2 separate regions of the Homo sapiens genome follow, and region 2 is linked to region 1. The links come from fine-mapping of genetic effects on gene expression. A gene starts in region 1. The other region holds a variant in brackets. All regions are shown on one strand. Distances are between the middles of the regions. Region 1 holds the start of RPTOR (regulatory associated protein of MTOR complex 1). Region 2 overlaps RPTOR (regulatory associated protein of MTOR complex 1).

Evidence for each region.
Region 2: its variant is fine-mapped to the expression of RPTOR in whole blood (INTERVAL, PIP 0.95).

The regions. Positions count from the first base shown.
Region 1 is chr17:80,537,690-80,553,216 of GRCh38, reverse strand. It overlaps RPTOR (regulatory associated protein of MTOR complex 1), which reads right to left and starts at 8,379. Exons shown (of 34, transcript NM_020761.3): 1 at 7,426-8,379. The coding sequence starts at 7,587. It also overlaps the pseudogene RPL32P31. RefSeq lists enhancers at 7,032-7,858, 7,786-7,885, 8,166-8,525, 7,859-8,685.
Region 2 is chr17:80,894,087-80,908,584 of GRCh38, reverse strand. The region is part of intron 20 of RPTOR (regulatory associated protein of MTOR complex 1); the gene reads right to left. Among named protein-coding and RNA genes, the nearest start is that of CHMP6, 91 kb to the left of the region's middle. The variant G/A (reference allele first, on the strand shown) is at 10,974.

The DNA.
Region 1 (15,527 bases):
AAGATGTGTGCTTAACAGTCAAGATTTAGTAAAAGTCATCATTTTCACTGCTTTATTAGCAAGGACATTCTCTCCATGTGCATGGCAAAGAAATCAGGAACTAGTAGTACAGCTTGGCACCGCTGTCTTGATTCATCACTTTTGCACTGTCAGTGCAGGTATCAACAGAGTGGAAAAGGCCAATGGTGTTCCATTATTATGAAAACAGTTTTGACCTTGTGGATCCCTGCAAGGGTCTAGGAGAAGCCCCAGTGCACAGGGCACATGCTGTGAGCAGACTGAGCATCCTTCTCTGTCTGCTGAATGTTGGTCTGCTGGTCTGCTATTTTCAACCCCCTGACCTCTTAACATAAATGTTTCAGTGGAGACATTATGATACAGTTTTGTTTTGTTTTGTTTTGAACTAAACTTTGTTTCTCCCTCTGCACAGGTTCCACTTCCTCTCACTGCTAGCCATGTTACTTATGTAACTTTAGGTAAGCCATTCAACTAAAACGTCAGTTACCTCATCAGTAACACGGAGAGAATGATCCCTAGGTAATTTATGGTGCTGTTGAGCCTTAAAGATAATGTATGTGGAAGCCTTTTGTAAACTATCCATTTTGTATCAGTATAGTTTTGTTGAATCCCTACTATGTGCCAAGCACTGCCCTATGGACTAGCATAGACTAGACTAGGTCCTTGCTTTATGATGAAAAGCTCACATCTCCAGGAGGAAGTAGGGAGAAAAATATCAGAGAAATAAATAGCCATCAGGAGGGTTTATGAGTGACAGGGTGGCTGCTTCAGATGGGGTGATGGTGGGCCTCTCTGAGGAAGGGACCTAGATGCTAAGTATGAACGACGAGAAGGGGCCAGGTGTGCAAAGATCAGAGAGAAAAGCATTCCAGGAGTTTCTATCCAAGAAGCAGAAAAGGCAGGCAGAGGCCAAATCATGAAGGCTTTGTGAACCAGCAAGAGGAGTCTGAGTTCTACTTTAAGCACAGAGGAAGCCAATGGAGACCACCAGTAAGGAAGTAACAGAATCTGATTCACACTTTTGTGGGGAAAAGCAAGAGAGATCAGATTGTTACTGTGTCTGTATAGAAAGAAGTAGACATAGGAGACTCCATTTTATTCTGTACTAAGACAAATTCTTCTGCCTTGAGATTCTGTTAATCTATGACCTTACCCCCAACCCCGTGCTCTCTGAAACATGTGCTGTGTCAAACTCAGGGTTAAATGGATTAAGGGCGGTGCAAGATGTGCTTTGTTAAACAGATGCTTGAAGGCAGCATGCTCCTTAAGAGTCATCATCACTCCCTAATCTCAAGTACCCAGGGACACAAACACTGCGGAAGGCCACAGGGACCTCTGCCTAGGAAAGCCAGGTATTGTCCAAGGTTTCTCCCCATGTGATAGTCTGAAATATGGCCTCGTGGGAAGGGAAAGACCTGACCGTCCCCCAGCCCGACACCCGTAAAGGGTCTGTGCTGAGGAGGATTAGTAGAAGAGGAAGGCATGCCTCTTGCAGTTGAGACAAGAGGAAGGCATCTGTCTCCTGCCCGTCCCTGGGCAATGGAATGTCTCGGTATAAAACCCGATTGTACGTTCCATCTACTGAGATAGGGAAAAACTGCCTTAGGGCTGGAGGTGGGACATGCGGGCAGCAATACTGCTTTGTAAAGCATTGAGATATTTATGTGTATGCATATCTAAAAGCACAGCACTTAATCCTTTACCTTGTCTATGATGCAAAGACCCTTGTTCACGTGTTTGTCTGCTGACCCTCTCCCCACTATTGTCTTGTGACCCTGACACATCCCCCTCTCGGAGAAACACCCACGAATGATCAATAAATACTAAGGGAACTCTGAGGCTGGCGGGATCCTCCATATGCTGAACGCTGGTTCCCTGGGTCCCCTTATTTCTCTCTCTATACTTTGTCTCTGTTTCTTTTTCTTTTCCAAGTCTCTCGTCCCACCTAACAAGAAACACCCACAGGTGTGGAGGGGCAACCCACCCCTTCACACTTTCAAAAAATCCCTCTGGCCAGGTGTGATGGCTCACGCCTGTAATCCAGCACTCTGGGAGGCTGAGGTGGGAGGATCACTTGAGCTCAGGAGTTCAAGACCAGCCTGGCCAACATGGTGAAACCGCATCTCTACTAAAAATACAAAAAATCAGCCGGGCATGGTGTCATGCACTGGTAGTCCCAGCTACTCGGGAGACTGAGGCACGAGAATCTCTTGAACTCGGGAGGTGGAGGTTGCAGTGAGCCGAGATCACGCCATTGCACTCCAGCCTGAGAAACAAGGAGAGACTCCATTTCAAAATAAATAAAAGATCCCTCTGACTGCTATGTGAAAAACTGGTTGTAGGGCAAGAATGGACATAGGGAGACCAGTCAGGACACAAATGCAGTGTCCAGACAAGAGACGGTGGCTGCCTGGACTGGGGCTGCATCAGTGGAGACAAAATGAAGCAGGCCAATGTAAGACATGCTTTGGAAGTAACGCTGATGGGTTCTAATGAATTGGATGGGGCGATAAAGAGAGGGAGAGGAAAGAATTAAGGATAAACTCTAAACTTACAGCTTGAACAACTGAGTGGATGGTGGTTGTGGCAAGCGGTGATGGAGAAAACTAAGAAAAAGCAGGCAGTAGGCATCTGAGACAGAAATTTCAGGCCAGATCAGAACTAAAGATTGGGGGTTTAAGCATCACTGGCATGTAGACACTATTTAAAATCATGGGCCCCGATGAGATCTGCTAGGGAGGGGCACACCCAGAACAGAGAATGGGGTCCAAGATCAATTCCTGGGGTGCCCCTGCATTTAGGTGTCAGGTAGCAAAGGAGTCTGAGAAGGAACAACTAGTGACCTAAGAGGAAAATCCGAGTTTCGTGGAGACACAGAAGCAAGTGAGGAAAGAGCTTTATGAAGAGGCCATGGTCCACATTGTGGAATGCTGCTGAGAGGTGAAATAAGAACAGAGAAGGACAGAGAAGAGAACTTTAGATTTAGCAACAAACTGGGGCCATATGGAGACCAGTCTCAGGGGAGTGGAACAGGGCACAGTTGGAATGTGGAGAGGACGCAAGGTGAGGAAAGCAGAGGGGGTAGTGTAGATTATGAAGGATTGCTATTACCCTTGCTGAAAAGACCGCATAAACCTTTGGCAGTCCATGTATTAGTTGAACAGATCTACTCTGCTTCCTCCATGACCTGGGCAAAGTATGGCTACAGAGCAATGCAACTGAGTCTAGAGAATGGTTTACAAAATAGCCTTCTTCATCTAACCGTTTCATCCCCTACACATGTAGACATAGGATGCCTGTCAGTGGTCCTACACATGCATGGAAATAGTGTCTGACAATGACACCACACATGTGTACACAGAATGTGTCTGCCAGGGGTGCTACATGCATGTAGACAGAGTGTCTGTCAGTCTACATGTGTGTAGACATAGCATGTCTGTCAACACTTTCAGAGCAATAGCTCTCAAGCACCCGTCATTCCATCCCACATATTCCAGGCAAAAGAGTCATCTGAGACCAGTTATCCCCACTGTCCACTTTCCAGTAGGAAAATGAACTCTGTGATAACTATAAAGTATCACAGTTAGACCAGGCACGGTGGCTCACACCTGTAATCCCAGCACTTTGGGAGGCCGAGGCAGGTGGATCACCTGAGGTCAGGAGTTTGAGACCAGCCTGGCCAACATAGTGAAACCCCGTCTCTAATAAAAATATGAAAAAAATTGGCCAGGCATGGTGGTGGGCACCTGTAATCCCAGCTACTCGGGAGGCTGCGGCAGGAGAATCGCTTGAACCCAAGAGGCGGAGGTTGCAGTGAGCCAAAAACACAAATAGGGGAGATATATACGTATCTGTTTTAGCCAAAGGTCTGTGAATGATTCATTTTGAACTACAATTCATATATGTCTAGTTATTTGAAAATTGCAAGCTAAAAACACTATGGATACATATATGCCTCATTCACTATACATAGTAGAATTAACCAAACAACAAACTAACTTGATAATAATTTTAAAGTAACAGTAACTTAGAAATTAAAATGTGGTAAAAGTGGCATTTGAAAACCAAGACTGATTCAAAACAAAGATGGCAGGAATCCCAACTGAGAGCGGGCAAGGGCTGTAGCTCTGGAAGGATGCCAAGTGTTGGGTGGCAAAAAAAACTTCTTGGGAGTCATCAGTCAGTCAACTTTGGTAAAGATGTCAATTTGAGGAATCTGTAGCAAGGCTACTAAATAGGAGCCAGTAAGAACTAATGAATATATGTACAAAATAAAAGCGTATGGAATTGCACATTAACCACAAGAAGAAGCAAAATCTCAGCTTGCATTTAGGACAGTCAGTGGCCACCAGGAAGTAGTTGATGTAGCTCCTAGCACAGAACAACCACGCCCACACATTTCACTTTACAAACATGCTGCTCCACCAGACTGGAGGCTACGTCCAGCACAGTGGGACTGTGTGGCCTGGAGGCCTGGGTAACAGAGATTCTTACGTAGGTAACCCACTGGTCAAAAAACACCCCAGGGCCAGGTGCTGTGGCTCACACCTGTAATCCCAGCACTTTGGGAGGCTGAGGCAGGTGAACGACCCGAGGTCAGGAGTTCAGGACCAGCCTGGCCAACATGGTGAAACCCCATCTCCACTAAAAATACAAAAAAAACTAGCCAGGCGCCTGTAATCCCAGCTACTTGGGAGGCTGAGGCAGGAGAATAGCTTGATCCTGGGAGGCGGAGGTTGCAGTGAGTCAAGACCACACCACTGCACTCCAGCCTGGGCAACAAGAATGAAACTCCATCTCAAAAAAAAAAAAAAAAAAAAAAAAAAACCACCCCAGGCTGAGCGTGTTGGCTGATGCCTGTAATCCTAGCATTTTTGGAGGACAAGGCAGGAGGATTGCTTGATCCCAGGAGTTCAAGACCAGCCTGGGCAACACAGTGAGACTCCCCAACCCCAGACACACTGGCGCACACTTATAGTCTCAGCTACTGGGGAGGCTGAGGTGAGAGGATCACTCAGGCCCAGGAGGTCGAGGCTGCAGTGAGCCGTGTGATCTCACCACTGTACTCCAGCCTGGATGACAGAGCAAGACCCTGTCTCAAAAAAAAAAAAAAAAAAAAAGAAACAGAAAAACACTCCACAAATGGGGTTGTTCAGCCTGCAGTGTTGGACTACAGTGTGTTTGGTAATAAATCTGAATTAGTATGAATATTTACAATAAAAGAAAAAAAAAGTTTGCTGACTTCTCAAAGACAAAGAGAGAGGCCTGGCCATAGCCCAGTTGCCCCTTCAGTTATGGCATCAGGGAGCCCCTGTTCCCACCCTCCAGAAACTGTCACACACACTGTGCCAAATGTCAGCTGCCATTTGTCTTTATCTTTGAACCTATGCCATTATTCTTCTTAAATGTGGCCTGTTTCATTCTCTTATGCTACCATCCCCACTCAATATCATTTGAGTTTGCAACTTCTGTCCTATAGCATGTGTGATACGGTCCTTGAGGGAAGAGATGACAAGATTCCAAAGGACCTGACCTTTGGAAGAGGGAAGAGATGACAAGATTCCAAACTCCCACACACTCAACTGAAGATGTTAGCTGCTGATTTTCTCCACCGAAAAACAGATACAGCAAACTTTCTCCCCAGCTCCTTTCTAAGCAGCAATCTCAGTAGTCACTAAGAGTCACAGAACTTTTGTTTCTCTTAACAACCTGTGAAAAGCTTATTAGGGAATGTTGATCATTCACAAATTAATGTTTTAATTAAAAGGTCAAACGTATACCCATTAATCAGTTTCAAACTGTTGGAACATAGGTTTAGGACAGCAGAGAGAACCACATTTCAAAATAACAACAACAAAAAAACTGCCCTCCACAAAGAATTTTTTAAAAAGTCTTTTCATATATGTATAGCAACCACAAAAGCTTTTAACTATATAGTTACTACTAAAGATGTCCATAAGATAGAATTTATACAACCTCCCCCAATGACTAACTTATTTAACTCCTTAAAATGCTTTTGGATGAAACAAATTTTCCTAACCTTTTAGAAGTAAGCCAAGTCAGTAGCTAACTGGTTACTACTGACTGACTGACTAGAGTTACCAGAAGTTTTATTTATTTATTTATTTTTGAGACACAGTCTCACTCTGTCCCCTAGGCTGGAGTGCAATGGTGCGATTTCGGCTCACTGCAACCTCTGCCTCCCAGGTTCAAGCGATTCTCCAGCCTCAGCTTCTCGAGTAGCTGGGATTACGGGCACCTGCCACCAAGCCCAGCTAATTTTTGTATTTTTAGTACAGACAGGGTTTCACCATGTTGGCCGGGCTGGTCTCAAACTCCTGACCTCAGGTGATCCGCCTGCCTTTGGGAGGCCTGCCTTGGCCTCCCAAAGTGCTGAGATTACAGGCGTGAGCCACCGCGCCCAGCCCAGAAGTGTAATCTTATATATGTTCAACATCATATACTAAAAAACAATAATATTCCATAAACATATACATAAGCCTAGAGAAAATCAAACATTGTAACACCAACTTCCTCTTTTATACCACTGAAATGTGCAAATAAAAGCAGCCTGGAGGGAGAAAATAACTTACAAAAAGACAAATTATAAGTGTGCATAGAGGAGAAGCAGTACTACCCTTTTGCTTTTGAGGCCAGGAAATAGATGGGTGTTTTATGAAGGACAAATCCAACAAAATTCGGCTGTTTTCTTTCCTACCAGCTGCTTGTGAGTCACTCTCCACACTCCAAACACCATGCGGACACCCTAAAACCTGCACCCAAGTCTCGACGCCTCATACCCTAACTCACGATTAAAGAAATCCTGTTTCCAAGTTACAGCAACAGGACACTACATAAAAGGAGGAAAATCTAGCTTCAAGAGAAATTGTTTAGAAGACTAGAATGAAGTTCAGTGTAACTTTATAATAACTTTGCACTAATTTGTTACTAGTTGAACATTTTCCAGTAATCTCATTTCCTAGCATAGTATATCAGACTTCTGCACTTCACCCAGCTTGGATATTTTAAAAAGTAGACTAATCATGTGGGTATAAAGATTATATCGCACGTTGTCCTTCCTCTAAGTGTTTACAGAACTAAGTAGTATGCCAAAGAGCATGTAAATACTCGCAATGCTCTATTTTCAAATTTGCTTAACTTTTATTATCTGAATTAGAACTTAGTTGGAATTGAATTAACACTACCCAGTGAATAATGACTAACCAAAACAGCATTTTCCATTTTCAACCAAAAACTGCAGTCTGAAATGGCTTTTGCTTTCTAGTTGACTTACAACGTGTGGCTAGGGGGAAATGTCGGCGCTTTCCCAAGGACACTTTTCGGGCTGTAAACTTTCTTTGTTGGGGAAACTACCAAGTTCAAGGGGTGCCTTCAGAATCCACTTACCCGATCCTTCATCCTCCAGCTCTGAGCTAAGGATTTGGAGCCTTCAATTTTCTCACAGTGCCTCTTTTTCATAAAAGCCAAAGGTAGGTTCCAGTCTGTAAGATCAGCCTCATCTTCCTCCCCCAGGCCCAGAAGAGGCGATTGCAGCATTTCGGACTCCATCAGTGGGGGAGGGGGTGGGGGAGTCCTTGGCAGCAAGCGCTCGAGAACCTCCAGCCTTAAAAACTAGCGTGTACCAGAATTGGTGAAATAAGAAACAAAAACGGGAAATCGAAAACCAAATGGATAAAGAGTGCGGAGACCCTTACTCAGGCAAAAGTCTGAGATCCTTATCTCTAACTCTGAGCGGGAAGTGGGGAGGTGGGGGCCGCTAGGAAATGGGGCAGCCCAAGAAGCTCCGCAGACACACACCACCCCAGGTCCCAAGCCACTGGCTGCTCCTGAGGCTGTACGTTTCCAGAGGGGCTGCGAGGGGAGCTGCCAAAAGCGTAAGAGACTTCAGGCCTCACGATGACCCTGCTCTCGGCCTCCACCGCCTCAGCAGTTCCGAAGACAGGCAGGCCGCTCTTGGTGCCGGTTCGCCCACTGGGCCGACTGGGCTGAGGTCTCCGGCCAAGGGATCGGGTTCAAAGGGCCCTGGGTCTCCTCCAGCCACTCTCAGCCCTGCGGGTCCCGCACTCGTCTGAGCTGCTGCAACCAGAGCCACGACCGGCCCATCGTGCTCGCCTGCACCCGGTTCCTCAACCTCAGGTCCGCGCGGCCTGGCTGGTCCTGGCCTTCAGCCCCGAGGCTCTCTCCTGCCTGAGAACGAGTCCTGAGAAACGGGCGACACGGAACCACGGAGGAAAGGGACAATGTGGGCTTATTGGGTCATGGGAGCTTTGCCCTCTGGTTTGGAGCTACAGTGAAACTCATCTCATCAGCCCATCAAGGAGGACGCCATATTGCCAGGACCCAGAATGCACCGCGGCCTACGGCGTGGCCGACAGACCAAACCTCCTCAGAGCGGTCTCTCCCCGCCACCCAGCATGCAGCGAAGGAGAAAGAGTCCCCGACCCCGTTACCTCGGTTACCATAATTCCGTTTTCCCCAGTTAATCGCCATTTGTTCAGTAGAGGCGTGTTATTAAAGTCAATCCTACAAATGAAACTGTCGGTTTAATTTATTTTTTCAAAAACATTGTCATTATAAATGAAGTTACATGCTCCTGAAATTAAAGGAATCAACCGCCTTGTTTCTTCCAGATTTTGAAAAAGCGGCAAAAGCTTCACTGATAATATTAGAAAATATTAAAAAGCACTGATAATATTAGAAAATATAGTACTTTTTTTTTTGGAGTGTAGTGTCCTCCACAGTGTCAATCAGATTTTCTCTTTAATTTTTTCATAGAGAACCAAGTGAAAGGCCGGGCGCCGTGGCTCACGCCTGTAATCCCAGCACTTTGGGAGGCCGAAGCGGGCAGATCACGAGGTCAAGAGATCGAGACCAGCCTGGCCAACATGGTGAAACCCCGTCCCTACTAAAAATACACAAATTAGCTGGGCGTGGTGGTGCGCGCCTGTAATCCCAGCTACTCAGGAGGCTGAGGCAGGAGAATTGCTTGAACCCGGGAGGCGGAGGTTGCAGTGGGCCAAGATCGTGCCACTGCACTCCAGCCTGGGAGACAGAGCAAGACTCTTCAGATGAAGAAGGGTCTGAAGCAACAGAAGAAGAGTCTGGAGCAAGATTCGATGAAAAAAAATTTCATCTAATACAATTTTTTGTTTAATCTGTTTCGTTTTCTGAGCAGTTTATCCTTTTTAAATTTTTTTCCCACTTCTTGGTAGCAGTAGTTTATTCTTATTTTGATATAGCTTCACGTGCAGACATCTAAAACTACATGTCTGTGCGTGGAGGCAAGCCTCTTGTGTGACTCTCTTTTTCAATTCAGGAAATTTGGCTCATTTACAATGTATAGAGAACTGTGTAAGGTGGACTATAAAACCAAATGTAGGCAGGGCACCGTGGCTCACGCCTATAATCCTAGCCCTTTGGGAAGCCGAGGAGGGTGGATCACGAGTTCAGGAGTTCGAGACCAGCCTGGCCAACATGGTGAAACGCCGTCTCTAATAAAAATACAAAAATTAGCTGGGCGTGGTGGCGTGCGTCTGTAGTCTCAGCTGCTCGGGAGGCTGAGGCAGGAGAAGAGCTGGAACCTGGGAGGCAGAGGTTGCAGTGAGCCGAGATTACACCACTGCATTCCAGCCTGGGTGACAGAGTGAGATTCCATCTCAAAAATAAATAAATAAATAAATAAATAAATAAGAATAAAACGAGGCCAGGCGTGGTGGTGCACGCCTGTAATCCCAGCACTTTGGGAGGCTGAGGTGGGTGGATCATGAGGTCAGGAGTTCAAGACCATCCTGGCCAAGATGGTCTTGATCTCTCAGGATGGTTTTCCGGGGCTTAGACACATGTGGCCATCCATATCAAAATCTTGATGGCATTTGTGTTCCTTTCAAAATGAGAATGAAGAATACAATCCCAGACCTTTCTCACCCAGCACAAAGCAAGCCTTTAATAAAGGCTACAGGATTAAATCATTGTCATTCCGCACATTCGTTTGGTTATTACACCCCATGGAGCCAATTCTCCTATTGAAACTCAGGGCACCCTCTCTGTTGGCAGAGACTATCCTCACAGTTACCAGCAGAGGCTTCAGGGATGCAGGGTCTTAGGAAGACCCCGTTCTCATCTGAAGGCAACAAAATCACTCCTGTCCTCTGCCTTGTCACCTTGCTCCCCACCTCCGGTGGCTGTAGACAGCTGCATTCCAGCAGCTCTTGCAGGAAGTCACAGTTACAGAAAAGCAGCAACGCTAAACCCATTCATCCCTAACTAGCTCTGTGACCTGGGAAAGCCCACTGAATCTGTGTGAGACTCAGTTTCCTCACCTATAACGTGTGTGACCTTGGGAAATCCATTTTTCGTATCTGAAATTCTAAACGAAGGTGTCAGTGAGCACGTTGAAGTCCAAACCCACCAGGTGGTCAGAATCGCCCAGGAAACTAAAATTCAGGATGCCCAGCTTCCAACCCAGAGCCCCAGATCGGGGAGCAGGGAGACCGGGATTCAGAATCTGCATTTTTTTTTTTTTGCAGTTTTTACAGTTTTATTTAAACACAAAACATGCACATGAGCTGTCTGCTCGTTTTCTTCACTGCGCAGACTGGCATGGGGGTCAGTGACTCTGATGGCCAGCTGGGCGGCTCTTTCTGTGGTGGCTTCGCGGTTCCTGGAGGAAACACTGTGAGCGATCTCAGCGCAGTAAGAAGTGTTGTACATCAGCAGCACTTCCAGCTCCTTGACGTTGTAGACTGAACTTCCAGAAGCCAGTGGGCAGCGTGTGCTTTGTTTTTTTGTTGCTCCCATAACCAATGTTGGGCATCAAGATCTGGCCCTTGAACCTTCTACCAACCCTGTTGTCAATACCTCTGGGTTTCTGCCAGTTACGCTTAATCGTGACACATCGGTCTGACTGGTGCCGGATGAACTTCTTGGTTCTCTTTTTGATGATCTTGGGCTTCACAGGGGGTCTGAGGGCGGCCATGATGCCAAGGAGGAGATGGCTGCCCCCTCCATAGGCAGCGCCAAGGAAGAGAGCCAGAATCTGAATTCTTAAATCAGGTCGCTCTGAGGATAGTTCACAGCCAGGCAGACTTGGAGGTCTTAGACAATATTCGCTCTAAAGTCTCCTGCAGTGATTCAGTTCGGGTCCCATATTGGGCCCTTAATCAATATGTGTGGCAAATGAATGAATGCTATGAAGTAATTGTCCAGACTTCCATCTGACAAAGCAGAAAGAGACTCACCTTCTCCTCAAAACAGCAGAACAAAACACACCCTCTACTGTTTAACACATGTGACCCCGAGCCAGGGGTCCACTCGGGTCCTGGACTGAGGATGAAGACACACACACATTCTATGGTCCCCAACCTGCCACCAATTCCTGCAGATTTCAGCAAAGCCTCTGCCCTCCTCCACCCTTGGTCTCCACGTCTGTGACATCAGGAACTTGGAGAAGGCGAATTTCTAAGGATCCTTCCAGTTTGAAATTCTGTGATTCATGTAAAGACCAGAAAGGGGCTTGTGACTGCTCAGCTCTCACCCTGAAGGTTCAAGGATGGGCCTGAATCATTTTATGGCATCTTGACATTTAAAAGAAACCTCGTTCTAGTATGTCACGGATGATTCTCTTCAAGTCCCAGCCAAGCATTTGGAAGTGGCTCTAGGTTTTTGAAAGGCAGTGAGCATCTGTGAGTAATGGCAGCCTGGAAATTCAAGGGCTGACTTGTCTCACCTGGGTGATTCCATGACTGTGGCATGTGGTGGGCTGGCCACTCGGGGCTGCAGTTCCAATTTCCAATGTCTCCAGTTCTTCACAAGCAAGGACATCTATTGTCCACAGAGACTTTAAATAAGATCCTTTTTTTTTTTTTTTTTTTTTGAGACAGAGTCTTGCTCTTGTCGCCCAGGCTGGAGTGCAGTGGCGCAATCTTGGCTCGCTGCAACCTCCGCCTCCCGGGTTCAGGCGATTTTCCTGCCTCAGCCTCCCGAGTAGCTGGGATTACAGGTGCCCGCCACCACGCCTGGCTAATTTTTGTAATTTTAGTATAGACGGGGTTTCACCATGTTGGCCAGGCTGGTCTTGAACTCCTGACCTCAGGCGATCCACCCGCCTTGGCCTCCCAAAGTGCTGGGATTACAGGCATGAGCCACCGTGTCCAGCTAAAATACTTTAATCTTAAAAACAAAATGTTAGGAATCTCAGAAAACACACAAACCTGGTTTGATTCAAGCTATGAAAACGGTCATGACCAGCCTGGGCAAAATAGTGAGACCCTGTCTCTACCAAAAAAAAAAATTTAATATTTATACCTGTGGTCCCAGCTACTTGTGAGGTTGAAGCAGGAATTTGAGCCCAGGAATTTGAGGCTTCAGTGAGCTATGATTGCACCACGGCACTCCAGCCTAGTCAGTAGACCAAGATCCCATCTTAATTTTTAAAAAATGCAGAAATTAAGAAAGAAAGTGGGGGAGGGTGTTGGCAACAACCTGCTCCATGAGTCTCTTACAGTCACTTATTCAAGACTTGAACACAGAGGTGTTTGTAAGACCACATGCCACGAAAGCCTCCTGCTGGTGGTGAACGTCAGCCTGCAGATGTGGGGCTGAAGGGGCTTCCAGGCCCAGCTAGGATCCAAAAAGAGTGGAACAGACCATGCGCAGTAGCTCACACCTGTAATCCCACACTTTGGGAAGCTGAGGTGGGAGGTTTGTTTGAGCCCAAGAGTTTGAGACTAGCCTAGGCAACACCGGGAAACCCTGTCTCGACAAAAAAAAAATAATAATAATTCTTTTTTTTTGAGATGGTGTCTTGCTCTGTTGCCCAGACTGGAGTGCAGTGGCGTGATCTCAGCTCACTGCAAACTCTGCCTCCCAGGTTCAAGTGATTCTCCAGCCTCAGCCTCCAGAGTAGCTGGGATTATAGGCGCCCACCACCACGCCTAGCTAATTTTTGTATTTTTAGTAGAGACAGAGTTTTACCATGTTGCCAGGCTGGTCTTGAACTCTTGATCTCAGGTGATCCACCTGCCTCAGCCTCCCAAAGTGCTGGGATTACAGTCATGAGCCACCACACCTGGCCTCAACAACAAAAAAAATTGTTTAAATTAGCCAGTCATGGTGACATGCGTCTGTAGTACCAACCACTAGGGAGGCTGAGGTGGGAGGATGGCTTGAGCCCAGGAGTTTGAGGCTGCAGTGAGCTGAGATTGCACCACTGCACTCCAGCCTGGGCAATCGAGCAAAACTCTGTCTCAAAAAAAAAAAAAAAAAAAAAAAAAAGCAGAATAACCTGCTTGAACAGAGTGGGGCACCTTGTCCTACCATGTAAAGGTAGACCAGGTGACTCCTTCTTACCCTAAAACTTAGACTGTTCGACAAATGGAATTAAAGATACAGCAAAGTGAGCAAGAGAACAAATATAAAAACCTGAGTGTGGGGGGCAAATATGACAGAAGGCAGAAATGAATGCAGGGAGAAATGCAGGGGGTGGGGGTTGCATAAATGGCTCAGATAAATAGCCTTTACCAGGAAGAACTAAGGTGGCTGGATATTCAGTCTCCGAGCTCAGCATTGACCCACTGCAACTGACCTAATCTTTTCCCAAAACAGAAGACCATCACAGCCGAGGCATTCCATTCACAGGCAGAATGGGCTGCGTTCCATGCGGCAGCATTGCCACTTCTCTGCTAAATCAATCAAGGGCACTGAATGTGTTTTGTCATCAAGAATCAGGAGCAAGGCTGGAGGTCAGGGAACTTGAGAAAACCAGGTGCTTCGCTGAGCTGTTGTTTTCCATGCAGGGAGAACAGCCAGCTCCGGTCCTTTCCAGAAAAATCTATGCTTAACTTAAAGGAAACCAAAATAGACATGAAGAACGTCGCTTTTGTCTGAGCATCATGACTCCGTTTTTAGTAAAACCCGAGCCACTCCCCCCTGCAGGTCAGATGCTTTGTTGACAGTGAAGTGAGAAGAGGAAGGAAAAGGAGGTAACACGGCCACAGCATTGCCTTCAGCTGGGAATGTGAGGCTGCCAGGAGCCCAGCAAGGCTGTCTCCCCCTCTCCACCCGTCTAAAAATATGGTGGTATTTATGCATGTGATTTTCACCTTCTACAGCACACCTTTCTATTTTATTCATTTTTTTATATAATAAGCATGTAGATCAATTAGCAGAAACAAAGTTATTCCCATTTTTAAAAGGGTCCCTGGGTAGCATAGGGACTGTGGTGAAAAGTGCCTCTTACTGAATAAACTTCACCCACTGTCCACATTTCTTCCTTCAGAAGTGAGGATTTTTGCATAGCCCTAGCCTTAAAAAGCCAGCCAAGGAAAACACGGCAAAGACAGAGCCGAGAAGGAGATGCATCAGGGAGGGGACTGCCTGAGAGCCCAACACGGAGCTGGGACCTGCACCCCAGCCTCTCCTTCCCACCCTGGGCTGTTTTGCGAAGGGCAGTGAAGAGCCTCTCTGAGACGCCTGCCATGTGGAGCAAGACAAGGGCAAAGCAGCTGGGAGAGCAGGTGCCCAGGCCCAGTCCCCGCTGGGTGGCCTTCCAGCCTGGGCGCCCTGACCGATGAGTCCGGATGGACTTGGGGAGCCATCTGCAAGGCTTTACGGCATCAGACGCTGCTGTCTACGGCCCTACGGATTCTTTGTGGAGAAGGGATGAAGGTACAGTGTCCGTTGGAGGTCAAACATCCCATTATTGGGAGTCCCTTCCTTCCTCCCCCAGATCCTAAAGGTAGAATCACAAAGATGTGGTCTGTACCCATGGCAGATTTAAAAAGAAAAAAGGGGCCGGGTGCAGTGGCTCATGCCTGTAATCCCAGCACTTTGTGAGGCCGAGGCAGGCGGATCACCTGAGGTGGGGAGTTCGAGACCAGCCTGGCCAACATGACGAAACCCCGTCTCTATGTAAAAAACACAAAAAAATTAGCCGGGTGTGGTGGTGCATGCCTGTAATCCCAGCTGCATGGGAGGCTGGGGCATGAGAATTGCTTATATACAGGAGGTGGAGGCTGCAATGAGCTGAGATTACGCTACTGCACTCCAGCCTAAGCAACAGAGACCCTATCTCAAAAAATAATAAAAAAGAAAAAGAACCCTCCCCCTCCCCCTCCCCCGCTCCCGCTCCCTCTCCCCACGGTCTCCCTCTCCCTCTCTTTCCACGGTCTCCCTCTCATGCCGAGCCGAAGCTGGACTGTACTGCTGCCATCTCGGCTCACTGCAACCTCCCTGCCTGATTCTCCTGCCTCAGCCTGCCGAGTGCCTGCGATTGCAGGCGCGCGCTGCCACGCCTGACTGGTTTTCGTATTTTTTTGGTGGAGACGGGGTTTCGCTGTGTTGGCCAGGCTGGTCTCCAGCTCCTAACCGCGAGTGATCTGCCAGCCTCGGCCTCCCGAGGTGCCGGGATTGCAGACGGAGTCTCGTTCACTCAGTGCTCAATGGTGCCCAGGCTGCAGTGCAGTGGCGTGATCTCGGCTCGCTACAACCTC
Region 2 (14,498 bases), 360 kb before region 1:
TTTCTAAAAGGAAAACTGCGTTGGAAAGGGTGTAACTTTCCTTGAAATGCCTCAGCGGATCGGAGGGCATGACCACACTCCCGGAGGAGCGTCTGATGTCACATCCTAGATTTCTAGGAGCTGCCGCAGCCCATGGGTAGTGGTGCATGTGGCATGGACGTCTGCACTGCACCAAGTTCAGCACGTGCTGCTGTGCACTGTGACCCAGGGAGTGCTTCCTGCCCACCTCCACGTGCTTCCTGTCCACCTCCAGGCACTGGCCCTGCTCTGAGATGCTAGGACTTCACGAAAGGTTGATGTGCTGTGACTTTTGTCCCTAAGCCTCTCCCGACTCACCCAACACTCAATGCAAGGTTCTGTGCTGCATACTCGGATACAAAGACAGACAAGGCAGGACCCAGCAGGGACTCAGACTCATTTATAAATAACACTGGTGAGTCGTGGGCATGGAGGGAAGCGCTGAGGCTTCGTCGGTGAGGATTCGTCGGTGCGGCTGCTCGGTCCTATTTAATTCCCCAGCAATCCTACAGGCAGGTGTTACCCCCAGCGTCGCCAAGGAAGGTGAGGCCCAGAGGATGAAGGATGTGAACGCACACCCATCAAACCTTTGAGCCATGCTACGTCCACGACAGCGTGCGGCCTCAGGGAGATGCAGGAAGGAGCGAGAGTGACTCCTTCTGTCAGCAGTGGGCTAGGAAGTGAAGGCCAGGAAGGCCTGGTGGAAGAGGCACGAAGGAGCTGGGCTTTGAAGGGAAGGAGGATCATTCTCTGGGCAAAGGAGGGGTGGAGCGAGAGGGGGTAGCACAAACAAGATCTAAGACATTGAACAATAAAACACGGAGGTGATGGGGACGCGGAGCCTTGGGGGATACCTGACGGAAGCCTGCAGGAGCCAATCAGAGATTGTGGGGTGGAGGCTGTGAGCACTTGGAAACCAGAAGGGGGGGCAGGCACGGGCTATGTGGGCTCCTGGCACAGTCAGCATTGGCTGAGGCCAGGGAGGAGGCTGATGGAGCAGGCATTGCCGAACTGTTGTCCACGCCACGCTGGACCCAGAGAGGCCGAGAAGGGAAGCAGCAATCCTGGTAGAGGCTGCATGTCCAGCAAGGGCTGGGCCGAGGACCAGAGGCGCTGAGCGTGGAGGGCAGAGCGGGGCCAGGCGCTGCCTCCCCTGCCTGCGGGCACCAGGAGTGCCAGTTTACTGCCAGGCTTCAACCCAGAGGCGGAGGCAGACAGGGCCCTGCCCTCAGTGCTGGGAGCTGAAAAGGGATCCAGCCACACAGAACTCCATCTTCTTTATTTTTGGGGAAGCTAGACAATTTGCTGAGAAGCAAGTGCTTGTTCACTAAATAGAGATTCAAAGGGTTTCGAGTGAGGTGTGATTCCAGTCCACCTGATTGTTGGTGAAAGAGCTGAAGCATCGAAAGCCAGTGGAGGGCCTCGTGTCACTGCAGGAACACAGCTGCGCACGTGGAGTGGGTTTTGCACGACACAGTCAAGTCCACGGAGATGGAGGCGGGTGCGAAAGTCAATGTGTGCGTGGGTTCTGCAGATGCCTGAGGCCACTGGCTCACCTCCACCTATGGTCTCCGCTAAGCGAGCCCAAGACGGGCTCTACTTCAGCTCCAGATATGGCGGGCCAGTGTCTACCCCTGCTGTGCGCGCCCCCACCGTGAGTGCAGAGGTCAGGGAAGCCCCATGCCCGTGGCTCCTGAAGAGGCCCCCATGAGGAATGCGTGTTGCAGTGAGTGATTGTCTCCAGGACTGAGCCGTGTGGAATTGAGCTCAGCTGCCATCTAGGAGGTCACGCTGCCATCTAGGAGGTCACGCTGCCATCTAGGAGGTCACGCTCTGCTGCTGTGCTGCCTGTGCTGGCGTGAATCATGAGAGGCTGGGACCTTTTCTGGGAGCTGACATGTCTCACCTCACAGGGCGAGTTTACAGCCTTCAACCAAAGGAAGCATTCTTCCCAGGGACACGTCCCCTGCGGGTCTTGCCCATACACATGTGTGCCTGGCCGGCGGTCCCTGTGCTTGAGCCTTGTGCCCAGGAGGAGGCAGTGGGAACGTCTTGGGAGCCTAGGGCCCAAGCACACCTGGACTTCAGCGCCACGGTGCCACGCAGATGCACCTTCTGCTCAACCGTGGTCCTGCACCGCGTGTACTGGGACAGAACCGAAGCCTTCCAGCTCTCAGATTGCACAGCTCTGCGATAGCCGTGTAGATCCACAAGCAAGTCTCGGAAATGTAAAATCGGTCCAGACTGTAGGAACATCCCTAGAGTCTCCTCTACCCCAGCGGAGCCGGCTCCTAGGAACTGCTCCGTGCAACACAAGGACATCGGCGATGGCTGCGTCCTCATTTTTTTTTTTTAGAGTGGGTGGGTGGGCTAGGAGATTTGGCTTTGAATTCCCTCCCGCGACAGGCCCTGGTGAGGAGGAGATGCGGCCTCACTGGCGAAGTTCGCTACCGCCTAGCTCCACGACACTCTCTAACATGGGTGACAGGATGGCCCCGTAAGATGCCCGTTGATGACTGCCCACCTGAGACCCACTCCCCTTGATTATTCTGGGGTCCTGGGCTCCCCACAGCTGAGTGAGGCATTGAAGCAGCTCCCCACGAGGCTCGACTGCCCCGTGAAGGGGCTGTGAGGGGCAGCTGGCCTTATATGAGAACCCTCCTCACAAGACCCGGGGGTGAGGACCAGGCCACTGTGAAGAATAGGGCACTGGGCAAGCCCGGAACCCAGGGCAGGCACGGCAGGAGGCCCCCCACTCCCGGCGGCCCTGGCAGACTGCGAGGAGGGTGCAGGCTGGTGGCTGCTCAAGCCTCACCCACAATGTGGGGGCCACAGACGCGGACACCCGGGGTCTAGGTCAGGGCTCCACAGGACACTCCAGGTAAGGACCCTGGCAATGTGCAGGGCGGGGTGGGGGTGTGTGTGAGATGTATTAGCTGCTACTTTCATCTAACTTTTTTTTTTTTTTTTTGAGACAGAGTCTCGCTCTGTCGCCCAGGCTGGAGTGCAGCAGCGCGATCCCGGCTCACTGCAAGCTCTGCCTCCTGGGTTCATGCCATTCTCCTGCCTTAGCCTCCTGAGGAGCTGGGACTACAGGTGCCCACCACCACGCCCAGCTAATTTTTTTTTTTTTTTTTGTATTTTTAGTAGAGACGGGTTTCACCGTGTTAGGCAGGATGGTCTTGATCTCCTGACCTCGTGATCCACCTGCCTTGGCCTCCCAAAGTGCTGGGATTACCGGCATGCGCCACTGCGCCTGGCCACTTTCATCTAATTTTTAAAAACAGATTTTTATTACAGTTGGCCCTCTACATCCATGGATTCAACCAACCGCAGATCGAAAATATTTGAAAACAAAACAAAAAGTAATACACATAAAAAAAAAAACAAGAGAGCATAACCACTGTTGACACACTGTGCTGGGTTTGGCATTATAAGGAAACTAGAGAAGATGCAAGCACGATGGGGGATGTGTGTGGGGGATGCACAGCTGTCACGCCTTTCCTAGCAGGACTGAGCGTCGTGGGCCCTGGGCCCTTGAGTCCCCCACGCGTACCGAGGGCCAACGCTATTGTTGTCGACCTTCGTGCAGACTTCCACTTATATCAAAGTCGAAATACTGTTTGCGACTCAACAGGGGAAAAAAAAATCTAATTTTTGCCAGTCTTTTTAGTGACAGTGGATTTTATAACTATGTACTAGTAAAAAGTATGACGCTGTGATCACGGAACTGCTGTCTTTATTTCACGTCTTTCCCTGGTTTGGCCACAATCTTCTCTCAGGCTCCGTTGTATGAACTGTCCTGTTGTAAAATCTGCCAGTCCCCAAAACAGACCGCAGAGAACTTCCCATCGGATTCGAGTCCACCAGGAAGGAGGTGGGGCTGCCTGGGTCCTGCCCGGCAGGGAGTCAGGGACCGGGGATGTTGAGCTTAGAAAGGGCCCCTGCTGGCACTCACAGAACTCCCTGTAAGCACGGAGAACCTATTTTCATGTCTAGACTAAAAGTAATAAAAGATCATAATGAATGGTTTTAGAAGTTATTGTTCAGAGCCCAATGGCCACAGCTTTCCAAATAGCATACACGGCGGGGAAATTTACTCAGAGCTCTGGCTGACTCTGAATCCCAGAAGCTCCCCGGCTGTCGGAGCAGTTCAGAGAAGACAGAGTCTTCCTGCAGGTGACAGCTGCCAGCCGCCACCCCAAGGCTGAGGGGTTGGCAGAGCGGGTTACGCCCTCTGATGTGCTCACCCAGTCTGTGATGGCCAAGACCCTCTGCCATCCTGGGGAACCAGTGCCCCAGGCCGAGGGCTTCCGCAGCGGCCCCTTTCCTGTGACCCCTCCTGACCCCTCAGGGGCTGCACCCACAACTCGGTGTGGCTGTTACGAGAATCACGCTGACCAGCCGCTCCGCCCTCCCTCCTCCTGGGCCGGCCGGAGCCGTGGGCCCTGCAGCTGCCCACAGGGAAGACGCAGCACCTCCCGGGCCGGGTGGGCGGTGCGTCTGCATCGTTTTCTCAGCATATTCAGTACCCCTACGAGACAAACATCATAATGGCCTTTAGTTAAGGACTTTTGTCCTAAAAACATAATCCTGTAGCATTGGAAAACTGTTGTTCATTTTCTCACCACCGTCTTCTGACAAGAGTAACTCCAGTTTCTGGGTTGTGAAGCCTTTTCCTTCCAAACCTACACAGTTCCTTTGGCAAAAACCCTGCCTAGCTTTTCTTTTGGTTGAGCGAGCACCAGGCTTTTTTTCTGCAAAGGCAGAAACCAATACCTTCTCTGCCCTGAAACCCAGACCTCGAGGCCTGGCCGGAACTCACTACTGGGGGTCTCTGGAGCTGCACGCGGGGCTTGTAAGGACTCTTTCAGCTTCTCGATGCCTTGGAAAAAAGGAAGGAAACTGTAGTTCTAGGTACCCAAGAAGGTGAGGTGGGAGGATTGCTTGAGCCCAAGAGTTCGAGGCCAGCCTGGGCAACACAGCGAAACCCCGTCTTTAAGAAACATTAAAAAATAAACCAAGGGAGAAGCAGTTGCTATGGCCCGTCCTGTGAACACCAATGATGCCGCAGTGCAGCCGGCCGCAATGTGTGCGGCTGAGAGGCCTGGGCAGGCCTGGGGTGCAGGGGCCGCCACTGTTCTGTGGCCTCCCAGGAGCCGGGCAGTGCCCCAGTTTCTGGGCTCGGGTCTCCGGGCTCCTCTTTCCTCCAAAGGCAGTAGTTCTGGCTCCCAGATTCGGAACGAAGTAGAGGGGTCAGGACTTGACACCAGCTCTCCCGCAGAATCCCGTGTTCAGGTGTGGAGAGCACAGGCGGCCTGCGGGGCTTCTGGCTCTGCCGCTGGCCAGGGCCCCCAGCTCCTCCTCTGGGTGAGCAGGGCGCTTGCCACAGCTGCACCAGGGCCGGCTCCAGGCTCCGCAGGGCTGTGTTCCTTTCTCGCCCTCCCCTCCCTTGCATTAGTCCATCCTGGATCCATTTCTATGGTAACTCATTTTCAAAACCGTAAAAAATGTCACCGTATCTAGCAGAGTCGTGAAAACTGGTCCCATCTAGCCCAGGCCTCTGATCTGCGTTCCTGCCAGCGCTCTCGGGATGAGGCTGTTTCTGCGGGAAGAGCCTTCTCAGGCCACCAGAGTCCCGAGCAGAATTAACTCCCGCCTCGCCTCTCAGCACGGGTGTGCTTGGACTCTGGCCGAGACGCAGGGTTTCGGGAGGGAAGGCGGGTGGAGCACACAGCAGCGTGGTCCCCCATGGGACTGCACTCTAGCTGGGAGCTGGGGCTGGACGGATGAGCGTGGGAGTGACATGGTGTGGGGCCACATGCATGGGTGTCTGGGGGTGAGGAGGGCACCTCAGGCTGGGTCCCGGGACATGTGGACACAGGCCACAGACCGTCTCCAGCCATCCTTCCATCCTGAGCAGCTCCACGGCCACTTGTGGCCGTCAGGAACACAGATAAGTGCAGAGGGCAGACGCATGGGCTGGGGGCCGGGACAGGTGAGGCCTGTGTCCACACATCCATGCGTTAGCAAGAAACAACTTTATAGGACTGTGGTGGTAAAAATGGCGACATCATGCTTTGATGTACTGGGTCAGGCACCTACATGGGGATCCTGGCGGTGGGCCAGGCAACCTCCCGGCAAGACCACCTGGCTCTGAGCTGCACGGATGGCAGAGGGGCCGGGCCAGGGGCCAGCCAGGGGTGCTGCGGGCAGGTGCAGTGGAGCGGCTGCTGCTGAGACGGGGGGCAGGAGGCTGAAGGAAGGCCTTGAATGTCAGACAATGGTTTGGCCTCTACAGAAAATGCGGTTTTAACGAAGGCTTCACCTGGAGGGTGGTGAGGAGCTGGTGTGAAAGAGGGCCTGCCCAGTTGTGGTCTGCAGAGAGCAAGACCCAGGGCAACGAGGCCTGGTGGGATGGGGGCACTGGAAATAGGAGGGATTGAGGTAGGGGATTCTTGTGGATGTCAGGCCAGACGAAGGGCTGAGTGAGAAACAAGCAGGATGGAGACATCAAAGAAGATTCTAGAACCTGACACAGTGCTGAGACCTGGGTTCCCATTTAGTTTCACAAACATTTATCCTGCCCCACCAGGGCCAGGCACTGCTGGGGGAACCTGGGCTCCATCAGCGATCAAAGGAAGCCAAGTACCAGCCAAGGGGCTTCATTGCCACGGGGAAGAAAGGAAACACGTGACTGAGGGTGTAAGAATGCAAGTGCTCTGGGGAAGGCAGAGCAGGGAGGGCGCTGGGGGCGGGGCTTCTGGGGGGCCAGGAAAGATGGGGAGGCGCTGGGGCAGGGCTTCTGGGGCACCAGGAAAGATGGGGAGACATGGACTCTCCAGGTTGCCATGGTTCTGAAAGCCTCTGCAATCTTCACTGAAAGGACTAAAGAGATTGCTGTTCTTTGGCTGAAATGAAAGAAGAAATTGGCTGGAAACAGGGAAGTGCTGTGCACAATGGGATTCTGTGTAAGTTATGACTTCTAAACACTTAGGTAAGCACGGTGGTTTCCAGGTGGTGTGAGTGACACCTCACTGAATATGAATGAGGCTGGCTTTGCAGGGGCGACTTTGTTTTCTTTCCTTCCTAAACTCCAGCTCATTGTGAAACTCTTTCCTGTCAAATTTCCTAAGATTTGAATGATATACGAATAAAACTCAGTTTTCTCCAGTAAAAAAAAAAAAGTCAGGAATCACATTGTATAAGAAGGATGGTGGAATGGGGAGTCCAGCTCCTTCGAGAAGACAGAAAAGAAAGAACCGGCAGAGGAGAAAACTCATGGAGGCCAAGCCCCTGTGTCCGGGCCCCAGGCTGCTGTGTGCTTCCCGTCTGGGTGGCCCTCAAATGAAACTGCGATTCTTCGCCCTGTACTCCACCGAGACCAGTACCGAGGATAACAACGGCATTCACTCATCACAGACAAGAGCTAAGTTTCACACAGGAGTTGGGCGGGGCCTCCGCAGTCCCTCTTGCCTGTGGACAGCACCCAGGGCCTCAGGCATGGCACGCGCACAGCAAACAGCAGCCTCAGCAAGTTCAGCCACCTGGAAACTCCACAGCTGTGAACTTTCTGTAGCCTTCGCCAGCAGAAGGGGAGATGCCCATGTGGTATCCAAATGCCCAGGGGGAAAGGGAGGTGCTGTGGGCGTGGGGACCTGCAGACGGAAGCTCTCAATGGTGCCATGGTGACCCAGCGCCACACTGCCTGGCTTGAGCTTCCTGGATCAACAAAAGGTGCGGTTCTGCACACTTGCAGGCCAGGTGCAACTTTTTATTTTGATTCTTACTTGATGGCCAGATACGTGTGAGTGGAGGGACGAGAGTGAACCGAGAACCCCATGGAGCATGGGCCAGGTAGGGTGGCGGGGCCACCAGGCCCTTGGCAGACGGTCACCAGGTGAGCACCGAGGGGTGATGCTGCTGTCGCTTCCTGTGAAAGAAGAAGGCCAGTCGAGCACAGTGGCTCATGCCTGTAATCCCAGCACTTTGGGAGGCTGAGGCGCGCAGATCACCCGAGGTTGGAAGTTCGAGACCAGCCTGACCAACTTGGAGAAACTTTGTCTCTACTAAAAGTACAAAATTAGCCAGGTGTGGTGGCATGCGCCTGTAATCCCAGCTACTTGGGAGGCTGAGGCAGGAGAATTGCTTGAACCCGGGAGGCAGTGAGCAGAGATCGCGCCATTAAACCCTAGCTGGAGTGACAAGAGGAAAACTCCATCTCAGAAAAAAAAGGAAGGCCACAGTGAGCACACGGCCCCAGGAGGGCCACAGTGGAAGCAGGGAGACCCGGGAGAGAGCTGCGACCACCAGGCCAGAGCTGCTGGCTCAGGTGGCTGCGAGGCGGGGAGGAGACGGCCACAGATGCCCGGCTGAGAGAAGGATGTGTTGGGGCACAAAGAGGAGTCCCCGACTCCTGGCCAGGAGTCAACCTGAGTAAACGCCGGTCCCCTTGGCTGCAGAGGGAGGACGCCCACTTCTGCAGGGAGGGGTGGGAGATGCCCAGAGCCGATGGTACTGGCTTCGACACAGGTGGCATTGGGTTTGCCTGTTCTGTACTTTTGTGCCCCAGCATGCACAGTGGGGGCACTGTCAAAATATCTGTCCAATCCGTGGGAGAATCCCAAGCCCTCTGACTCACAGGAGTATCCTTGGAGGCCAGGGTGCGGGCAGGGTGTGCCCTACTGTCAGGCTCTCTGAGCTGAACTCAGCCTTGTTTTTCTATGGCCTGTGTATGGTTCTTATACTTTTTAAGTGGTTGAAAAAAAAATCAAAGGAACAATATTTTGTGATGTGAAGTTACGCAAAATTCAAACTTCAGTCCACACGGTTACATAGCAACATGGCCAAGTTCATTCACCTACACGCGGTCTCTGGCTACTTTTGCACCACACTGGCAGTGTTGGGGAAGTGCCAAGGGGCAGTCCCACCTGCAAAGCTCTTTCACAGGAAGAGTTTGCAGACTCCTGCTCTAACCTACACGTGACGGAAGGGAGCTATCACCTTGACCTTGATGAGCGTGAACTGGGGCAGAGGTGGCACTAACCTGCTGGAGGCGCTAGAGAGCTATTCACAGGAGCTGTGGCCGGGGCCAGGGGAAATGTGTAATCAAAACAGAATACTATGAATTTACATTTTCTAGTACTTAAAAAAAAATTTTTAAATACCTTTTTTCATTGTAGATTTATAAGTAGAATTTCTGCAGACAGGTTTTAAAAGACTCTTGCAGGCTAGCCTGGAAACCTAACCACTATATGTAACATTAATTCTATTTAAAAAGTGTATTCCAGTTCAAAACAAACATCTTACAAGTGACGTTAGAATATATTTCATTGGTGACTTGGCAATACCTTGATTTATACTCGAATATACGGAGTCAACTCTGCGCTTTCTGGGCACTTGGCATATTTTAGTGGACAGCCAAATGCACAAAGCTGCAACGTTATTTCTCAATGAAAATTAACAAGTTGGCGTGTCTGGGCTAAGCTGGCGTGTCTGGGTTGTTGTGTAGTGAACCTTTCAGTTCTCCATACCCTGGAGGGCATGGTGCAAGCTCTGGACTCGTTCTATCCAGAGGTGCTCAAGGCAGCAGCTGGCCAAGGCTGGGAGCACACCCACAGGGTTGCCCGGTGGGAACTGCCTTGGCGGATGCCCTGCGTCTGTTTCGGGTCTTTGGGCTCCTGTCATGCGCTGCTGTCATTGTGGCTGGACCGCCATCCCCAGGAACCACAATGGAAGTAGAAAGAAAGCTTGAAGCTGAACACAAGTGAAAAGCCCATCATCAAAACTCACTAGACGGAGACGGCGGGGTGAGCAGGGGCGGGGTGAGCAGGGGTTGGGTGAGCAGGTGCGGGGGGAGCCGGGGCGGGGGGAGTCGGGGCGGCGGGGGGTGGGGGGAGCGGGGGGGGAGCGGGGGCAGGGGTTGGGGGAGCCGGGGCAGGGGTCCCGCAGACCTGAACACACACATTAGGAAGGAAGAAAAACTCAAAGTTAATGAGCTGTTTTTATTTTCTGTTTGAGAACTGTAACAGGACAAGAGAGTGAACCTAGAGAAAACAGTAGAAAGGAAACAAAATAAAGTACTGGAATAGAAAAATAAAGATAAAATAATGCAGTAAATCCACAAAGCCTAAAAGTTAGAACTTGAAGACACTAAAGAAATGAACAAACATCTTAGAGGATTAATCAGGAAAAAGGGGAAAAGGCAAATAAACAACAATAGGAATAAACGGGGACATATCTAAAGAGGCAGCAGATTGGGAATATCAGTAAAAGCAGCTAAAACAATAAAGAGACAGCAGAGATTAGAGACTCATGAGAATACTGCAGACAGCCTCAAGGGAAAGAATGAGAATACTTAGCTGAAATGAATAAAATCCTAGAAGAATAAAACTTTTTGAAGCTAGCTTATGAAGAAATAGAGAATGTAAATAATCCTATCAGCATTAAAGAAATGGAATACAGAATTCAAACCCACCCTCACAACACTACACTAGCCCAGACAGTTCAGGGGCAAATTCTACTCAGACACCGAAAGAACACATCATCTTTGTCTTATAAAAATTGCCCCCGAGGACAGGGAATGACGGCGCACTCCTGAGCCAGTTTTTTTGGACAGGGAATGAGGGTACACTCCTGAGCCAGTTTTGTTTTGTTTTGTTTTGTTTTTGTTTTGAGATGGAGTCTCACTCTATTACCCAGGCTGGAGTGCAGTGGCGTGATCTTGGCTCACTGCAACCTCTGCTGCCCGAATTCAAGCAACTCTCCTGCCTCAGCCTCCCAAGTAGCTGGGATTACAGGCACCTGTCACCATGCCCGGAGGAGCCAGTTTTACTAGGCAGGTACAGACTCAATGTCTAAACCAGCCAGGTCAGGACAAGAAAAGTCACAGCCCAACCCACTCGTGAATGCCAATGGGGAGCGCCCAAAGAAATAGCTGGTGAGCGTAAGGCAGC[G/A]ATGTCAGGGGACATTACCACGCTGGGTGCCCCCAGAAATGCAAGGATATTTCACAAGAAATTCAATCATGTAATTCCCTACCCTAACAAACAGCCATGCACAGGGTCATTCTGAGATGCAGAAAATACATTCAAAGAAATTAATTCCATTTATCAGGAAAATTCTTAACTAACTAGAATAGAATGGGAATTTGCACTCATAAAAAGAGTGAACCAAAGGGAAGGGAATTTCTATAAACTGATATAGAGCACCCACTCAAAAAATCTACAGCAAATGTCGTATCAAAGGTAAAAGGTTAGAAAGGTTTCGTTTACTCTCAAGAGAGAAACACAGATGTCCACTGCCATTCTTTTTTTTTTTTTTGAGATGGAGTCTTGCTCTGTTGCCAGGCTGGAGTGCAGTGGTGTGATCTCCGCTCACTGCAACCTCCGCCTCCCCGGTTCAAGTGATTCTCCTCCAGTAGCTGGGACTACAGGTGCGCACCACCACACCTGGCTAATTTTTTTATAGTAGAGACAGGGTTTCACCATGTTGGCCGGGATGGTCTTGATCTCCTGACCTCGTGATCCGCCCGTCTCGGCCTCCGCCTCCCAAAGTGCTGGGATTACAGGCGTGAGGGACCGTGCCCAGCCCACTGGCATTCTTTCTTTTTTTGCCAGCAACAGGTTTTAAAAAAGATATTACTTAAAATTACAAAAACTGAAAGGTAACGTCATGCCTGTGACCTTTATGCAGAAAGTTAGACTGTCTTGAAGACATAAAGAAGACTTAAGTAAATGGAAAGATACACCCTGTTCAGGAGCAGGAAGACTCATGATGCAAGGAAGTCAGTCATCCCAGGGAAATCCACCAATTCAGCGCCATTCAAACAACACCCCAGTGAGGCTGCTGTCGACACAGAAAGCCTGACTGTGAAATGTATACAGCAGAGCAAAGGGCTAAGAGCGGCCAAGACAGTTCTGAGAAACGAACTGAGGAGCGGGCTCAAAGGTGCTGCCCCCGCAGCTGTGGTGTGACGGCGCGGCCGTGTGGGGTGTCGGCGCGGCTGTGTGGGGTGTCGGCGCGGCCGTGGGGTGCCGGGGTGGCTATGCGGGGTGTCGGTGCGGCCGTGGGGTGTGTCGGTGCGGCCGTGGGATGTGTCGGTGCGGCCGTGTGGGGTGTCGGCATGGCCGTGGGGTGTTGGCGAGGCCGTGTGGGGTGTTGCTGCGGCCGTGGGGTGTCAGCGAGGCCGCGTGGGGTGTCGGGGCGGCTGTGTGGGGTGTCGGCGCGGCCGTGGATGGGATGGGTGCTGCTAAGAATGGAGCCCCCACTCAGACCCTAAGGACTGATGGCCAGGGAGACGCTGAGAAGCACTGGCGGGAGGACGGGCTGTCTGATGAAGGGTCTGGGGTGGCATAAAGAAAAAATACAACCTGGATCCCCACCTCACCACAGAGACAAAATGTGGTTCAGGATATACTTAAGACATGAACACAAAAAAGGAAAATTTTAAATCTTGGAAGAAAATGTAGGAGAATATGTTTAGGACATTGAGAATAGGAAAAACAAGACACAAAAGGCCCAAGTTATAAAGAAAAAGAGAAACTAAAAGATTAAGCTTGTGTGGCACCAAAGGCATCATAAAAAGTCATAGATTAGATGCATTTTCGATGGATATATTCAGCCAGGAATCAGCACCCAGAACTGTGATGAATGCTGATTACAAACTACTCAGAGAAAGATAAACGACACAAGGCGAGTCTGTAAGGCTGCAAGGCTGTAACCTCACTGCAATCAAGGCAGATGCAAATTCATGCCACAAGGAGACACCAGGTGTGTCTATCAGACAGACAAAGGCTGGCCAAGACCGGCGTGGTAGAGAGTGGCGAGATGGGGGCGCCTGCGCTTTAGAACAGAGGATCCCGTGGAAGGCCTGGGGCGACATCTACAAAAGCTGAAGGTGCAGGCACCGTTCACGCAGCAGCTTCACTCTGAGGCAAGGTGGCGAGAGGCACTCACGTGTATCCACGCTGAAGAACACGCACCACACACGTGCCCGTTTATGTGTATTGAGCACCTACTGCGTACCAGGCACTGGGTGTGGACAGGGTGGGAGGAGACAGTGGTTAACAAGGCTGGGTTCCTGCACGTGCGGCTCTCAAGCTCCAGGGGAGAGAGATGGGCCGGGCCAATGAACAAGTTACACGTACAGCACGTCTGCAGTCCACAGTCCTCAGGAGAAAAATAAAGCAGGAAAAGGGAGCAGGGTCAGAGGGCAGCTGGGGAAGCCTGATTCCAGGTGGGGCGTGGGGCTGGGGAGGCTTCTGGGAAGGTGCTGCCAGATGGGGGCTCTGAATGAGAGGGGAGCGGCCACCATATGCCGGAGAAGAGCTTCCCCACCGATGCCCAGGCTGGGGGCCGGGTAGGCTGGGGCCCAGCAGAGCTGGGTGCAGCGAGTGAGGGTGTGTTGGATGTGGGGCTCCATGGTGGCAGGGGCTGAATTCTGAGTTTGCTTATTAAGAAAAGGAACAAAAGGCAAGAAGAAACTAGAACCGGCCTCACTGTCCCCAGACAGGAGAATGGATAATGGAGTCACGGCAGATCGCGGAGGTGAAGGAACAAAACCTAGATGACCATCAAAGATACATATTGAAGTCAGAGCCAAAGAAACGGGCTTTGCGGGCCACGCATCGTGCGACGGCGCCAATAGGAGGTAAAGGCCTCTAAGTGGGCACCACGTGTGTGCCAGGGCTCATGGCCAGGGAGGGAAAGTGTAATGTCACCAGAGGGAATGGGACCGGGGTAGGGTCTGGGGCTCGACCTCTGTAATTCCTTAAGCTGGGAACACAACACACACACACACACACGCAGCGCTCTTATATAAGTCTCTGTAAATTTTTACATGGCTAAAATGCTCCTTAACATGAAAAAAATTCAAATGAAGCCGGTAAGCCACTCTGGATAGTCAGAACAAGAGGAGATGAGGCTCATTTGGTTAAGCCCTAAATCTGTTACCAGCAGTGTGAAGATGAACATAGCTACACAATAAGAAAACACGGTGAATTCCTGCTTCTCCTGTTTTACAACAGCAATCCTGGTGGTAGGACCCAGGCACACACCATTCATGGCAGAACAAGAGAAGAATCTGACCCTTCCGTCAGATTTCCATTTCCAGGCAGTGCTGCGTCAAGCTGCTGGGATGGAGGGAAAGTTGTGTGGAGATTCCGCAGGTGAGCAGGGCGGGGATGACAGCCCCCAGCCCGACCGCAGGGCCCTCCGCCTCTCACTGCGGACACTGTGTGGGGGCTGTCCTGGGCACCAGGGGATGTGAGCAGCTTCCTGGCCTCACCCACTGGGACAAGGAGCACCCCTACTGTACCCCAGTTGCTCGTGGGGGGCAAAACCACCCCCGGCTGAGAACCACCGTTCTGCATCACCAGGGTGTCCAGCACCATGAAGAACTCTCACCCGTCTATGGAACAAAGATGGAAGGTTCTGGCAGCCTTCCCACCCAGCCAAACTGGCCAGCTCCGATGGCTCCGGAG